2 separate regions of the Homo sapiens genome follow, and region 2 is linked to region 1. Evidence: fine-mapped expression QTL. Tissue or cell type: spinal cord. Region 1 holds a variant in brackets; the other region holds the start of a gene. All regions are shown on one strand. Distances are between the middles of the regions.

What was found. PIP is the estimated chance that this variant, and not a neighbour inherited with it, causes the effect.
Region 2: it holds the start of FCRLB, and the variant in region 1 is fine-mapped to the expression of FCRLB in spinal cord (GTEx, PIP above 0.99).

The regions. Positions count from the first base shown.
Region 1 is chr1:161,672,052-161,680,152 of GRCh38, reverse strand. It overlaps FCGR2B (Fc gamma receptor IIb), which reads right to left. Exons shown (of 8, transcript NM_001394477.1): 4 at 6,924-7,178; 5 at 6,080-6,193; 6 at 4,840-4,896; 7 at 2,788-2,825; 8 at 1,499-2,677. The coding sequence ends at 2,600. Among named protein-coding and RNA genes, the nearest start is that of FCGR2B, 13 kb to the right of the region's middle. The variant T/GT (reference allele first, on the strand shown) is at 3,443.
Region 2 is chr1:161,717,855-161,725,961 of GRCh38, reverse strand. FCRLB (Fc receptor like B) reads right to left here and starts at 4,418. Exons shown (of 8, transcript NM_001002901.4): 1 at 4,301-4,418; 2 at 4,112-4,207; 3 at 3,259-3,309; 4 at 2,953-2,973; 5 at 2,341-2,595; 6 at 1-141. The coding sequence starts at 3,289. RefSeq lists enhancers at 3,357-3,456, 3,537-3,636 and a silencer at 7,016-7,065.

The DNA.
Region 1 (8,101 bases):
CCCAGCCAAAAAGTTCTTTTTTTTTTTTTTTTTTTTGAGACGGAGTCTCTGTCGCCCAGGCTGGAGTGCAGTGGTGCAATCTTGGCTCACTACAAGCTCTGCCTCCCGGGTTCACGCCTTCTCCTGCCTCAGCCTCCCGAGTAGCTGGGATACAGGCACCCGCCACCAAGCCCAGCTAATTTTTTTTTTTTTGTATTTTTTTTAGTAGAGACGGGGTTCCACTGTGTTAGCCAGGATGGTCTCGATCTCCTGACATCATGATCCACCCGCCTCGGCCTCCCAAAGTGCTGGGATTACAGGCGTGAGCCACCATGCCCGGCCAAAAAATTCTTAAAAATTAGCCAGGTGTGGTAGTCCCAGCTACTAGGAAGGCTGAGGTGGGAAGACCACTTGAGCCCAGGAGTTTGAGGCTGCAATGAGCTGTGATCCTGCCACTGCACTCCAGCCTGGACTACAACCCTATCTCTTAAAAAAAAAAAAAAAAGAAAGAAAGAAAAGGGAAGAGGATAGAGGGAACTGATGACAAAATGGAACTTCTACTTTTTACTCCTTATCTTTCTGTATTATTTGGGCTTACATGCTTACAATGAGCATACATTTTTGCCTGAGTGTATTTATTAACATGTAAAATATATGATATGATCCAATTTTTTTTTTTTTTTGAGACAGAGTTTCACTCTTGTTGCCCAGGCTGAAGTGCAATGGTGCGATCTCAGCTCGCTGCAACCTCTGCTTCCCAGGTTCAAGCGATTCTCCTGTCTCAGCCTCTCGAGTAGCTGGGATTAGATCCAATTTTTAAAACACAAATACACACTGCCACAGACAGGAATATGGATTGATATCCTTAAATGTTAGCATTAATTATTTCTGGTTTATGGATTTATGGGCGATCTAATTTTTTTGTTTTCCCTATCTGTATCTTAATTTTATAAAAAGAATACATTATTAGTGTAGTGAAATAATTTACATATAAATAAAAGGAAATAAGTTACTACTATGCAATTTATAAATAAAGGGACATACATTGTATCTACAAAAATGGGCAAAGAATAAATACACAGGAAACTCACAAAAGAGGAAATATAAAAGGCTAATCGTAAATTCTCTAAATTCTAAAGCATATAGTTTGGCACAAACTATATGGCACAAAGTAAGTCCTTAATAACGCAGTAATTTTAATTATTATCCCTTATTACTAAAACAATAAGTGTGTATGAAATCTGATTGTGGGACCATAAAAAGTGAGTACTTTTTATCCTACCATAAAAAGTGCAACAAATGTTGCACGATGTTACTGCGTAGAGTCCCAGGAAAATGAAGCCTCTCCAAGGGCACTCACCAAACCCTCAAGGAGACTGCCAGTCATGTTTCTAATCTGCCTGAGATGACTTCTCTGAGAAGGTCACATCCTTCTGGTAACTACATTGGGAGAATAGCAGAGCAGGACATGTCAGCAATCTCCACTCAGGGCTCATCTGAAGTTTGACTTCCCGTGAACTTGTGTTGCAAAACAGTGTTTTATTTGCCATAGGAGGAAAGAGAAGAAGACATGGAAACAAGAATACAAGGTCATTGGCAGAAGAGTACAGTCATGCATTGTTGAAATATGGGGATACATTTTGAGAAATGCAGGCAATTTTGTTGTGTGAACATCATAGCAGGTACTTATACAAACCTAAATGGTGTGGCCTACTACACACCTAGGCTGTAGCGTATAGCCTATTGCCCCTAGGCTACAAACCTGTACAGCATGCTACTGTACTGAATACTTTAGGCAATTGTAACACAATGGTAAGTACTCATATATCTAAACATAGGAATAGAAAAGGTACAATAGAAATATGGTATTATAATTTTATGGGATCACCATCATATATGCAGTCTGTTGTTGAACTAAACATCATTATGTGGTGCGTGACTGTATTCAGTTTTAAGAAAAGGGGCACTCACTCTACATTCTAAATCCCCATCTCTCCTCTCCTCCCCCTATCCTATCCATTCCTGCCTTCCTAAGAGTCTCATCACTGAAGAGAAACAGACCCCAGGCAGTTCAGTCTACACTCCAACCAATACAGCCTTGAAAAGGTAAACAGAATGTTGTTTTTATAATGTTTTATTATAAAAGTAATATATGATCTTTATAGAAAAATAAAGAAAATAAAAATCATCAATAATTTTATCACCCAGAAACAATCACTTTTAATGTGCTGGTAGAGGTTAGTCTATTTTAACATTTCTGAAATCATATAGATTTACATGATTGTTCTCACGTAACCTGTAACATAAGCATTTCCCAAGTTGCTATTATCTGTTAATAACAGTGGTTTGATTAATTGGATTGGCTGTGTGGATGTGGAACGGAAGAGCCTTGATGTCAAGAAGAGCTGAAGCACAGAAGGTGCAGTCGGTTATTTGGGACCATATTGTCTGTGGCTTTCAGGACAGGGAGCTTCAGGACTCAGGTAGATGACTCTGGAAGAAACCTTCTCTTTTGGAACTGCAGCATCTCCCTGTCCTCCCCAAGGGGAATTTAGGCCAGGAAATACCAGATCTTCCCTCTCTGATTTTCTTCTCAAATCCCAATGCAAGACAATGGAGACTAAATACGGTTCTGGTCATCAGGCTCTTCCAGAGCATCCGGGTGCATGAGAAGTGAATAGGTGATTGTGTTCTCAGCCTAGAGAAGGCAGAAACCAGCAGTAAGGATCCACAGAGAGGGCCTAGGAAAGAAGGCAACAGAAAAGGCAACAGGGGAGAAGGGAGGGGGAGATGGCTGGGATCACTCACCCCAACTTTGTCAGCCTCATCAGGATTAGTGGGATTGGCTGTGGGAAAAAGAAGAAATATCAGCCAGAGCACTGCTGGAGAAGAGGGCCTGCCTGTGCTGATGCTGAGGCTGCAAAACCAACGCCCAAACTAGAGCCAAAGCAAGCACTGCTGACCCTGTCTTGGGCCTCTAGGCCAAGCACTGGGTAAATATGACCTCATTGATCGATGCATAGGGTAGCCCAGCCACAGCCTTCCGCAAAGGCCAAGGTGAAAAAGTGGAGCAGTCACTTGAGCTGCATTCTTTTCAGGGAATTGCTGAGCTTTCCTAGAAGCAAACCAGGGAGGCTTGGGATCTGAGATATTGGGGAAGAGGTGGGGGAGGGGGGTGTTCAGCATCAGAGTGAAGTAAAGTCCAGATTTTTGCTGGCCACAGACTTCAGGGAGAGAAGGCTGAGGGCCATTTCCACATTGTCTAAATGTAGTGCATCTTTGTTGGAACTTTGAAAAATATGGTACTCCATGGCATTAAAAAGAAAGAGAGAGTGAGTGAGAAAGGGAGGAAGGGAGGGACGGAAGGAGAAAGGAAGGATGGACTTTGGTTAGTGTCTGAAACACACTGAATTCCCTCATATTTTGCCATGAACTGACTTAGCCAGTGTGAAAAGCAGCCCCA[T/GT]ATCTGCAAAGTGGCATTTCTCAGGAAGTCAGGAGACATCTGAGACAATGCATCTAGTCTCTTCTCTCACCCCCTGAACATAGAGAGCCTTTATTGCCATGCTGTAAATTCTGCAGTAAACCGCATTCTGAATTCCCATTCTATTACATTTCCCAAGAATCCCAGCAACCCAGCTTTGCCTTTTGGGAAAGGATTTTTAAAAAACCATTTATGCAGCCCCAATGCCTGGCTGCAAAAGTGCCTTGTGAAATGTGCTTATGCCAGTGCAGACAGAACCACACAACAAGATGGATAATCCAGTTGCTTGGACTTTGTTTTTTCCAGATCTGTTTTGGCCCTGGTGTGAACACAGGCCCCTATCACCACTGGGCCTGGCCAGCAGACATGCGACCTTGCTGCAAGCACAGCTGAACAAGTGATATTTTGCTCAAGCTCTTAAATCTGTTGGCTCTGCTCTGAATCATACTCCAGCCATCTGAGGTGGGGTCTTTGACAGCCTCTTTTTTCTGCCTGTTCTTACTGTCATGGAAGCCCCCAGAGAAAGCACTGGTTTCCTTTGTGCTCTGACTTTAACTACAGTCTGGAAGTTGCCTGGCATCCTCCTGGAAGTTCCTTTACACACTCCCACCTGGGCCAGGGCTTGGGTGGCCCCTGGTTCTCAGAATGTCAAATCTAGAAGACCTGAGAGGTCACCCTGGCCACCCACTCATTTCCTCAGTGAGGAGACTGAACCCCATCAGGGAGACTGACTTGCTCAGGGCTCCACTGTGTGATGAGGGCAGAACCAGGCCAAAATTCAGTCAACCTTGAGTGCATGGGCATCAGAACTGAGTTTTGCCCACAGAGTAGAGCCCACTAGTGCCCCTAGTCCCCCAGAATTTTCTCAAGCCCAAACCTCCTCCTAGTGTTCCACAGACAGCTGAGCCTGGCCACTCCACCCCATCCCTCCACAGAGGCAGATTCCTCAGCAAATCAAGGGGTTTCCAGGCCTCCTCCTCCTTTCCCCTTAGACTCCTGCCTCCCACGTCCTATTGGCCTCAGTCTTACAGCCCCTAACCCCATCCTTTGCCAGCTCTGCCAAAGCTCCACAGGAAGACCAAAGTATCTCTGATTTCTTGCTCTGGAAATATCACCAGATTCCTGGTACCAGAAATTCGGACACAGCCCTCTCTTCTGTATCTGGGACTGGTGTTTCTCTTCTCATCTCCAGAGAGGTCGTCTTTAGGCCCAGGAGTTAGACTAAGAGCTGACCAAGCGATTTGAGCCCCAGCCATCCTCCCACTGCTGCTCCCTCCCTGGCTCCCAGCTGAACTTGCACAAGCCCCTTCTCCCTGGCTCCAGTCCAGCCGGCAGCCCTGGTGAGCCATCACTGAATCCCTGAGACAACCTGTACTCACCTGGTTTCTCAGGGAGGGTCTCTCCCATTTCCCTGCACTCAGGGTATCCTGGGAGAGCTGGGAGGGGCACACAGGAGGTTAGTAGGATTAGGCGGTGGGGCCTGAGTCCTCAGGACCAAGGACCAGGGCCAGGGTTGGATGGGACCAGCTCAGGCCTTCACTCTGGCAGATGTTTCCTGTCCTCCCACCCCCAGCTCCCCTGCTCAGAGGCTGCTCCCGCCTGGAAAAGGGCTGGTCCAGAGGCAGAATTCAGCTCACCCATGGGGATGCCCAGGAGTGTCAGAAAGTCCACGCCATGGCATCTGTCTGAGGCTTGCTCTGCCTTTTAAAAACACCCCTGTGTCTCAGTCTCTCTCTCTCTGTTTCTCTGTATTTACTTATCATCAGTAACTGAGGTGTTGGCTATGAACCAATTGAAAAGTGCTTTGTGAGGTGTTAGCAGGATTCTTTCTTTCTTGGTGGCTTGCAGTACCCTCTCTACTCCCCCTTCGACACCCATATGAGCCCCACCCGGCTTCAATCCCTGCCTTGGCCCAGTGCCTGGAGGGTCCTCCTTCCCTAGCTAAGCGCTGCCCTCACACACCACCTCCTCCAGAATGGCAACAGCCCTGTTTGTGTGCTGTTACTGCCTACCAGGCACTGTGTAAGAGCATCAGCCTCTTTCATCCCCATGGCAACCCTCTGAGGTAAGTCCTATTAGTGTCCCCATTTTCCACTTGAGACAGCTGAGGCACAGAGAGGTGGAGTGACTCACTTGGGTCATATAGTTGGTATGCTGTAGAACTAGATTTGAACTCAGGCAGTCTGGCCCCACTATGTGCACTCCATCACTACACTACACTGCTCTCCCCAAGACCTTCTCCAACTGCCTCAGCCCTTGTTGGGCTATGGAGCCTCCTCTGTACTTCTATCCTAGGCTTTTCATGTCCCTATCATTGCTCTTATCCCATCTTATTATAATGACCCTGTCTTCCTCACAATGCTGAGAACTCCCCAAGGGCAGGGACTGGACTTCTCTTGGCATCACCCACCATGTCTCACGCATTGGCTGACACATAAGCTAGTTTGTTCAAGTCTTGTCAAATGAATGATCTAATAAACGAATGAATGACTATAATACAATACGGGCCTAGATCTGAATGTGTATCTAGCCCAAAGAGAGGGATTCTGGCAATGTCTGGGGTTAGGGCCTGGGCCAAGTGGAAACTGATAACCAAAGGGACCGGGAGGAGCTACAAACCTGAAATCCGCTTTTTCCTGCAGTAGATCAAGGCCACTACAGCAGCAACAATGGCCGCTACAGCAATCCCAGTGACCACAGCCACAATGATCCCCATCGGTGAAGAGCTGGGAGCTAGGGAAGACAGACATCAGGACAGGCAGTACTCTCCTTGTCCCACCTCCCCCCCATCCAATGCTATGTCCTAGTGCTTGTCACCCGAAGCTCTTCTGTGTCTGAGTCACTCACTTCTGCAGCACTCACTACATCCCCAGCCTCATCTGCACAGGGTTTCTGTGGCTGGACTTATGCCTCCTGCTTACCGAGGTTTCTCCACCAAACTAATAAAGGTACATTTGTGAGCAGGCAGGAACAGAGGGAAGGGCTCCCCTTAGCCCTCAGGGGCAGTGGGAAGGGTGGGCCCAAAGCCTCGCATAGCTGGAGGCATCATTACTCTATGGAGCACAGCCTTGAACGGTCCATGACGTGCCAGGCTTTCTGGAGTGAATGGCTGTAACATGAGCCATGAGAAGAATAAAGGCAAACCTCAGTTCTTAGGAATGCCCAGGAGCTTAGGGAACCTCTGCACCAACGAGGGAGCTCTGCTTCGCTGCCGTCCTTAGTCTGGGGCCTGCATTTCAAAGTGGAACAACAGCCTGGTCACCTATCACCTGAGGGCTCCAAGCTCTGGCCCCTACTCCTGCTCATTGGTCAATACTTAGCCAGGCCTCCACACCACTCCTCTTTGCTCCAGTGCCCAATTTTGCGCTGTGGCCTTTCTCAGACCTCCATGTAGGCCCATGTGACCTCAGCCCTTGTCCATCCCCTCTTCTCCCCTCCTTACATCTTGGCAGACTCCGCATACCTTGGACAGTGATGGTCACAGGCTTGGATGAGTACAGCGTGTAGCCTATGTTTCCTGTGCAGTGGTAATCACCACTGTGACTGTGGTTTGCTTGTGGGATGGAGAAGTTGGGATCCGAACGGGAAAATTTCTTGGATTTTCCATTCTGGAAGAATGTGACCTTGACCAGAGGCTTGTCCTTCCAGCTGTGGCACCTCAGCACGATGGTTTCTCCCTCCTGGAACTCCAGGTGAGGGGTCTGGAGCACCAGCCACTCTGAAAGACACAAAAAACCGCAGAGGACCCGGGAGGTCTTGGCTCAGCTCTGAGACCCAGATCTTCCTTACTGGTGGGACACGATGTGCAGAGGGAACAGCTTAGGTCTGAAATCAGACAGTCCTGGACTCTAATGCTGGCTCTGTCATTTATGAACTCTTGGGCAAATAATTTAAGTCTTCTGAGCCTCAGTTTCCTCATTCGTGAAAATGAGCATGATAGTGTCATGTATCTACAATAGCCCCTAGCACATAATAGGTGTTCAGGATACACTCATCTCCTCCTTCTCCCAGGAAGGCAGCTGCAGCCTTTTCCTGCCCGACAGGCCTCTGCAGGAAGAACACAAGAGACCCTAAGATGCCATCTCTTCCATGTCGAGGAGGGAAGGAAGAATCCAGTGTGACCGAGGAGTCCGCATATGATAAGGACATATGCCTTTGTGGACAGTAGAAAAGTCATGAATGTGCAACAAATGTTACCTGATGAATGCTACCTGATAAATTTACTTCGGGAATGTTAATAAATGTGGAGCTTCTTTCCAGCAGGGTCTAAAGGCAGCAGTGTCACCAGTGGGTCATTCGTTTGCTGTGTACTTTTGAGGAAAATTTGCTCTTCAGGTGAAGGGAGGGGACTAAGTGAAAAGCCACAAGGACAATGTTCATCACAATCTCATTGTAACTTTGCTTTACAGAGAGCCACCTTTCAATGGGAGCTTTGTAAGATCATCAACCTCTCCAGCAAAATATTTATTAAGCTCTGCCCAGTTTCAGATGCTGGAAATACAAAGATGGGTAAGACACGACTTTCATCTCAGGTTTCCCACAGGCTGGTGGAAGAGAAAGACAGAGAAGAGCACCTAGCACAGTGAGAACGTGGAGAAGGGGCATGGAGGGCGGGGCGGGGGCAGGGAAACACTGATTCTC
Region 2 (8,107 bases), 46 kb before region 1:
TGGAGTGGAAGTAGCGCACGGCCTGGCCGTCGTGGTAGTAGTGAAGCTTGTAGACCACCTTGTCGTACCAGCCGCGGCAGCGCAGGACTAGCGGCTCACCCTCGAACACTGGCGCATAGGGCACTTGCAGAATCAGCCAATCTGCGACAGACACCACAGACACGCTTGACTCCACAGAAAGTCCAGCCCTGGAGATCTCCCACTCTCACAGCCTTCCAGCTTTCTCCTCTTAACTCCTCTCCCTCCCTTCCCCGCCATCTCCCACCGCTTTCTTTTCTTTTCTTTTTCTTTCTTTTTTTCTTGTTCTTTTTCTTTTTTTGAGACATGGTCTTGCTCTTGTCGCCCAAGCTGCAGTGCAGTGGCACAAACTCGGTTCACTGCAACCTCCACCTCTTGGGTTCAAGCGATTCTTCTGCCTCAGCCTCCCGAGTAGCTGGGATTACCGGTGGGCGCCATCACACCCAGCTAATTTTTGCATTTTTTAGTAGAGACAGGGTTTCACCATCTTGGCCAGGCTGGTCTTGAACTCCTGACCTCAGGTGATACGCCCACCTCGGCCTCCCAAAGTGGTGGGATTACAGGCGTGAGCCACCGGGCCTGGCCTCCCACTGCTTTCTTGAGCGGACAGGCCTTCCCTGGTGGTTGGCACCCAGCAGCCTCATAGTGCAAGATATATTTGTAGGTGAGTGGGAAGGAAGGGGGATGGCTGGTCTTTCACTTAGCCAGGGAGCAAAGATGCCAGAGACTTGGCTCCACCCTCAAAGGGTTTTGACCATGAGAATCAACTATAACCTCCTTAGGATGGTGTCAGAGTCCTCCTGACTGGGTCCTGCTTACCTCTCCCTCACCATGGCAGTATTCATTCCTGCCCCATTTCCTCTCTACTTTCCTCATCTTCCACTCCTAACAGGATAAGTTCCAGCCATACTGAACTGTTGAGAGAACTGGCCCTGCTCTGAGCCCGAGGCTTTTGTACCTGCTATTTCCTCAGCCAAGAAGACTCTCTTTCACCTGTTTAAGTTCACCTGCTTGTCCTGCATGTCTAGGCTTAGACCTTATCTCCTCCAGAAAACATCCCTGACACCCCAGGAGAGCCTTAGGTATCTCCTACAGCACCTCATAATTACCCTGTGATCATTATAGCACGCTTACATAGCCCTAGCACAGAGCAGATGCCATTTTAGGTGTTGTACATTGAGAAAGAATCCTGCAAGTAATAGCCACAATCCACATGCACTCCCAATCTGTAAGCAGTAATTACTCCTATAGTACTCAGTATAATTATTGCTATCACCAATGATTTCCGAACAAGAAACCACAGAGTATGAATATGAAGTGTGTGTAAGTGCTAATCTGAACATTGAGTGATGTGCTTTAAATTCTGAATACAAATTGTGGCTAGGAGTGCACGATCTCAGCTCACTGCAACTTCCGCCTCCCAGGTTCAAACAATTCTCATGCCTCAGCCTCCTGAGTAGCTGGGACTACAGGCACCCGCTATCATGCCCAGCTATTTTTTTTTTTTTTTTTTTTTTTAGTAGAGAGTGTTTCACCATGTTGGCCAGGCTGGTCTTGAACTCCTGACCTCAGGTGATCTGCCCGCCTTGGCCTCCCAAAGTGCTGGGATCACAGGCTTGAGCCACCGTGCCCAGCAATCCTGTACTTTATTGAACAAATTATTGTTATTTTTCTTATCCTGTTTTAAAACCCTTCAAGCATCTCGAGAATCAGTTTCTCAGCTGACTCCTGTGTACACATATACACGTCTGCAATAAAACTTTGAGTAAGTGCTCAGTTCAATTGCTGCTTTTTTTCTTTAGCAAATCATAATTCACTTTTAATCCTCAGAGCAGCCGAAGAGATACATACTATTATTGTCCCTTCTTTACAGATGTGGACACTGAGGCACAGAGAAGCATCACACTGTTCAACTGAGAGTAGATCCTTGATCTATGCTCAGACTGCCAGGGAAACTCACCTTTCCTGTTTGGTGAATTTCCTTTACTGCTCCCTCCCCAACCCCCTAAAGTTCTCTGTCCAGCACTCCAGGTCCTTGGAGCCTTTGCTCTTCTGAGCTGGTCTCAGAAACAAACAGAAATGTTCACACTGTGCCTCACACTATGGCAGGAGGGTAAGGGGACCTTGGGGGCTAGGCATGCCTTACTGCATCTCTCGCATAGTGCCGTGCAGGTCCCTACCTGCTCCAGAGACTTAAGATAGGCCCCAGTGTGGCCCTTGTTTCCTGCACCTTGGGATTGGCCCAGTGTTCCCTCCCACCAGAGGACTAGTATTGCCAGAGGAGACACGTGCTCCCCCTCCCCTCGTGCTCAGTCCACTCACCATTGGATACAGAGAGGTGGATGGGGTCACTGACGGGTGCTCCCCGTGTCTGGCATCGATACACCCCTGGTGTCTGCACCTCAATGCTCTTCTTGTGAGAGGGCAGAAGTAGGTGGCCCAAATACCAGAGAGTGCTGATGGGCTGGAGCTCCAGGAGCAGTGGGTGGTATCCATCACACTTCAAAGTTACCCGCTCCCCTTTGAAGATGGTGGTCCAAGGTGGATGTAGAGACAATATGGGCTTCTCCAGAGTAGCTGGGGTGGGGAGTGGGGTGAGAGGGGGCAGCATGCAAAGAGAATCAAGGTGAGGTGCCCAAAGAAACGACCTGAGTTTGGGAAATCTTAGGAAACCCCAGCTCGCAGGCCCCAGCCCATGTACTAACCCATCCCTGCAGGAGAGGAGATCACATTCATTGGGTTACAGACTACCAGTCCATCAGCCAGCACCCATTTCTAAATGCCTTCAAGCAAATTTAGTCCCAGGGGTTGACGAGAGTGGGAAGAGACACTATCCCAGCGCAGCCAAGAAGTGAGGAGTCTACTTGAAAAGGTCACTTAGGGGGTTGGAGTGGAAGCTGTAGAAAATTGGGATGAGAAATTTATAAGACTCACCAGCTTGCCCACTGCTTGGAACTGCAGAACAGGAAAGAAGGAAGAGGAAGGAGAAGGAGAATATTGGCGATGAGAGGAGAGAGACTCTTGACGACAAGAAAGGCTGAATGGTCCCAAAACCTGTTTTTCTTCTTCTGCCCCTGGTTTCCCAAGCTCTGAGAAAGCCCCTTCTTCTTCACCCCTCCAAAAAAAGATAATGAACCACTTGGAAACTGAGGATTGGATACCCACCCTCCTCTCCCCATACCTTGGTCCACCCTATTCTCCACCACCCAAAGCTCTTCTGCTGCCTCACTGTGGACTCACCCAGGAGCAGAAGGGCTGTCAGTGGCCACATGATGGATCTGACTGCAGCAGCTGCAGAAGGATGGAGATGCACTGGCATGAGATGGGGAACAGAGAGAAAGAATGTGGCCAGTGGATGCCACTGAGTACTAGGAGACATTGCTGCTTCTCCCACCCACTCCTAGTTCCTGAAGATAGCAGACCAGAACCAGTGGGAGACAGGCTGAATATCAGGTATCCCAAGTGCCAGGCACTGTCTCATCTACCGCATCTACAGCCACCTCACAGCTCAGGCCAGCCCTGACTACTGAAAGGAAGGCCTGCAGAACTTGTGCCCTCCACAGCACAAGAGAGCCCCATAGAACCCCAGGCTCCAGCAGATGACCCCGCCATCTTCAGGCTCCCATTGACATCCCACTCCCATCCCATCCCTTCTCCACCTTCCAGCCAGCCCTGCAAGGCTCAGCTGAGGAAGACACGGCCTCATGTCCTTAAGGACCTTTTTCCTGCTCACTCCTGATGACAGACATTGGCATGAGACCTAGAGAGGTCAGTGTTCGGTTGCCTGCCCCCAGAGCTCACATCCTGCCACAATGAGTAGACGAAAAGGCATGACTCACCAACCACCCTTCACATCCCTATCATCTAGTTCCCCAGTCAAGGATAGAAATGCAATGTGTTTCTTCTTCCTCCCTTCCTGAAATCTTGAGTTCTCATAAATTCTTAAATTCTTAAGAAGTTAGAAAACTCTTCTTTCCTACCCATCCCAATGAGCTCATCCTGTGGCACTTCCAATCACTTGTTCTTTTCTTCCTTCCTCCCACCCTTCCCTGCAACCCCTCCCCAGCCACGCCCCAGTTCCAGAACTCCTGACCTGCAGCAGAGAAGTCACTGCATCGGCCCCTCAGAAGCCTCTCAGATCTGACCTCGGGGCTCTACTTCTTGTGCTTTCTGAGCCATGTGACCGTACCTGAGCAATGAGGAGAACCTGAATTTTCATGTAAATACTTAATGAATTTTCCAGCCTGATAGTGTGTCTCCTTGGACTCTATCCTGTCCTTACCTGTGGTTGTTTAGAACCGGGGCACCTTGATCCCTTGGAAATCTGATGGGAAGGAGATCAATTATCAGGTACTGTCAACTCCCAGGAAGATAGTATCTTCCCCTCTTGCTGATGCCTGAAGTTCCACTCTGAGAGTCCCCTCATATTTTGCTTAATGGACTAGCCCCTTTTAAAAATGCAAATGCCTCTTAGGAAAATGTGACTGGTCATTTAAATTATGCTGGTCACTTCAGATCATGTTTTGAGTGCAGGTTTTGATAAAAGAGATAGAGTCCTGTAGATTTCAAACAAAGTAGGGACATATTTGACAATGTGCCCAAGAGTAGGGGAGGCAGAGAAGAACTAATTACTGGGAACAGGGATGATCACCTGCCTGCTTTAGGAGTGCCTGGGCTGACCAGCACTCTTGTGCTTCCCCTCCATCCTAATAATTCCTCGTCTCAGGGCCAGTGTGTGGCTTCCCACATGATCCACAGCCTGCCACAGAGGTCTGACTTCTGCACCAAGCCACCACCTCAATGGTAAGAATGCAATGCAGTTGTCAGCTGTCCTCTTAGGCAACACAAGCTGGCTCTATTTTGGCTTCTCATCCCCCAGAGCACAGATCTCAGCCCCTTTACTCGATTCAGAAGAAACCTTAGTACACCAAAACTTTGTGAACTGTATAGTCGTCCCTAGAAACCTCTGGAACCATCCATACTGTTCATATTATACAGTGCTCAGAATTTGACTTGAAAAATTTCCCACGAAATATTTATTTATTCTAGGCTCTCCTCTAAGTTTTTCCCAAAGTGAGTCTTTTTACTCCATCTAGGACTTTTCCCCAGAATTTCTAATTCTTCACTCCTTTACAATGCAGAAAAATTTAGAAATTATCATTTGTAACTTGAGCAATTATTTGAGGCCTATCACAACATAACATCTGGACAATATATGTCACCATTTGATAAGCATTCTGGTGATAAAGTGTTCTCAGTGATAATTACAGTAATGAACTAATGCTGTTGTTGCTGATGACAGCTCACTTTAGTGTCTCGGCATGTGGCAGGCACTATGCTAAGTGCTTCACAGATATTACTGCACTTAATTCTTGTAAGGCCCTTTGAGGAAGAATTATTAATATCCCAATTTTGCATATGAGGAAACTGAGATGATGAAACTGGGATTTGAATAGAAGTCTGTCTCCAAAATCTGTTCTCTTATCTCTCTGATTGTCAGGGATTCAAGATGCTGCTCATGGCCGGCTGTCATTATTGGTCTTTGCAAGTTCCCCCTCTTATTGTCTTACCTTGTTGACTTTCACCCACATTATTGTCCTCCTCCCCTCCACATAAGCACCCACTGTAAAATGTTTACTGTGTGTTCCCATATACATGCTATTTTTTTTTGTGCTTTAAGTTCTAGGGTACATGTGCACAACGTGCAGGTTTGTTACATATGTATACATGTGCCATGTTGGTGTGCTGCACCCATTAACTCGTCATTTACATTAGGTATAACATGCAGTTTTTAGCTTTGAGAAATATTTAGTGTTGTTAATTTACATAAGTGGCATTGTGTTCTAGATATTATATTCACTTCTACTTTTAAAAATTAATCCCAGATGTTTCAAATTTGTTCAGATTGCTCTACATGCATCATGTTTATTGCTTTTGACTGCCCTAATATTCTTTTTTTTTGAGACGCAGTTTTGCTCTTATTACCCAGTCTGGCATGCAATGGCATGATATCAGCTCACTGCAACCTCCACCTCCTGGGTTCAAGCAGTTCTCCTGCCTCAGCCTCCTGAGTAGCTGGGATTACAGGCGTGCATCACCACGCCTGGCTAATTTTGTGTTTTTAGCAGAGATGGGGTTTCACCATGTTGGCCAGGCTGGTCTTGGACTCCTGACCTCAGGTGATCCACCCACCTCAGCCTCCCAAAGTGCTGGGATTACAGGCATGAGCCACTGCGCCCAGCCATGACTGCCCTAATATTCTATGCTTCTGCTACACTGCACTTGTCCATTCCCCTAACATCCTAGTTGCTGCCCACCCTCAGCTACCACAGACAATTCCACAATGGACTTCTTGGTACATATTGTGAGGGCTGGATGAATTAACATATGTAAAGGGCTTAGAACAGGGGTTGGCACATAGGAAGTTTCATGTAAGTTAGTACTGGTAAGGACATGATGCTTCCCTACAGAGCCCTGAAGCGCCTTTATGGGATACACACCTGAGAGCAAGACTGCAGAATTATGTTCATGAGTTACATGCACACTCATTCCAAAACTCAAATCTAATTCATCAGCAAGTCCTGATGACTCTACCTGCTACATTGATCTTTTTGTACAGTAATTTATTCACTGAGTCGCTAGAGAGATACTTTTAAAATGTTAACCATATTGTGTTACTTTCTCTCAAAATTCCCCATAGGTACCCTCAGAATAAGTTCCAAACACCTTCCCATGGTCTACAGGGCCCTACAAATCGGGCCTTTCTCTGACCCTTGGCCTCATTTCCTACAACTCTCCCCCTCACTCACTCTGATCTAGCCACATTGTGTTTAGAACAGTTGCTGGAACATTCCATGCTTAGTCTTGCTCCAGGGCCTCACTTGCTGTTCTTTCTGCCTGAAAGATTCTTATTCTCCTCCCAGATTTTTGTAAGTTTCACTTCCTCACTTCACTCAAATATTACTTCCTCAGAGAGATGGTCGCTAACCGTGCTATCTAAAATAGTATCTCCTCACTGTCATTTGCTGGCTCCATATTTTGCTTTATTTCTCTTCAATGTACTTGTCACCACCCGGAATTGTATTTGTTTGTTTGTGGTAGGTTCCCCCATTAGAATGTAAGCTCCATTGAGGCAGGAATTTTTTCTTTTTTGCTGATGTATCACCTACAGCAGTGACAGCACATAGCACGTGCTGTGTAAGTATTTGTGGCATAAACAAAGGAAGAGATTGAATACCGTGATATTACTCTCAAAAGTGGCTGCAGAAGCTTATACACCCACCAGCAATTCACGTGGCTCCCATTCCCTCTTGTCATCAATATTCAGTGTTTCTTACCTTTGTAATTTTATCAAACAAATTTTTCTTTTCCTAAATAAGAACATTTAAAATTATTCTTATTTTATTTTCTGTAACCCAGGATAGGGCTGATAATAATATATTTTTTAAAATTGCTATTGCTATTCTTTTTTTTTTTTTTTTAGACGGAGTTTCACTCTTCTTGCCCAGGCTGGAGTGCAATGGTGCAATCTCAGCTCACCACAACCTCTGCCTCCTGGATTCAAGCAATTCTCCTGCCTCAGCCTCCCGAGTAGCTGGGATTACAGGCATGCGCCACCATGCCTAGCTAGTTTTGTATTTTTAGTAGAAACAGGGTTTCTCCATGTTGGTCAGGCTAGTCTCGAACTCCAGACCTCAGGTGATCCGCCCGCCTCAGCCTCCCAAAGTGTTGGGATTACAGGCGTGAGCCACCGTGCCCGGCATAAAATTATATTCTTTAATGTAAACTTTTCAGCAAAAGGAAGGCATTTCGATACCAAAGGAGTGCAAAGGACAATTTCAGAATAGAGAGCAGAGTATTTCTTTACATTGAATGTCTTTAGCTTTATGAGAAATTCACACATAGTTAATGAAAACTAACAGTGCCTGTCTGAAGGAACTCTGGCAGGAAGGCTGTGCTGTAACTCTCCGTATTTCTCCACATCTCCTCTTGTCCAGTGGGAAGGGAGAAGGTTGATACCAAGAGGGAAGAAAACTTTTAAGAAGACAGGACTAGGGTGAGGCCTATCCCAACACACCCTCCTTAAACT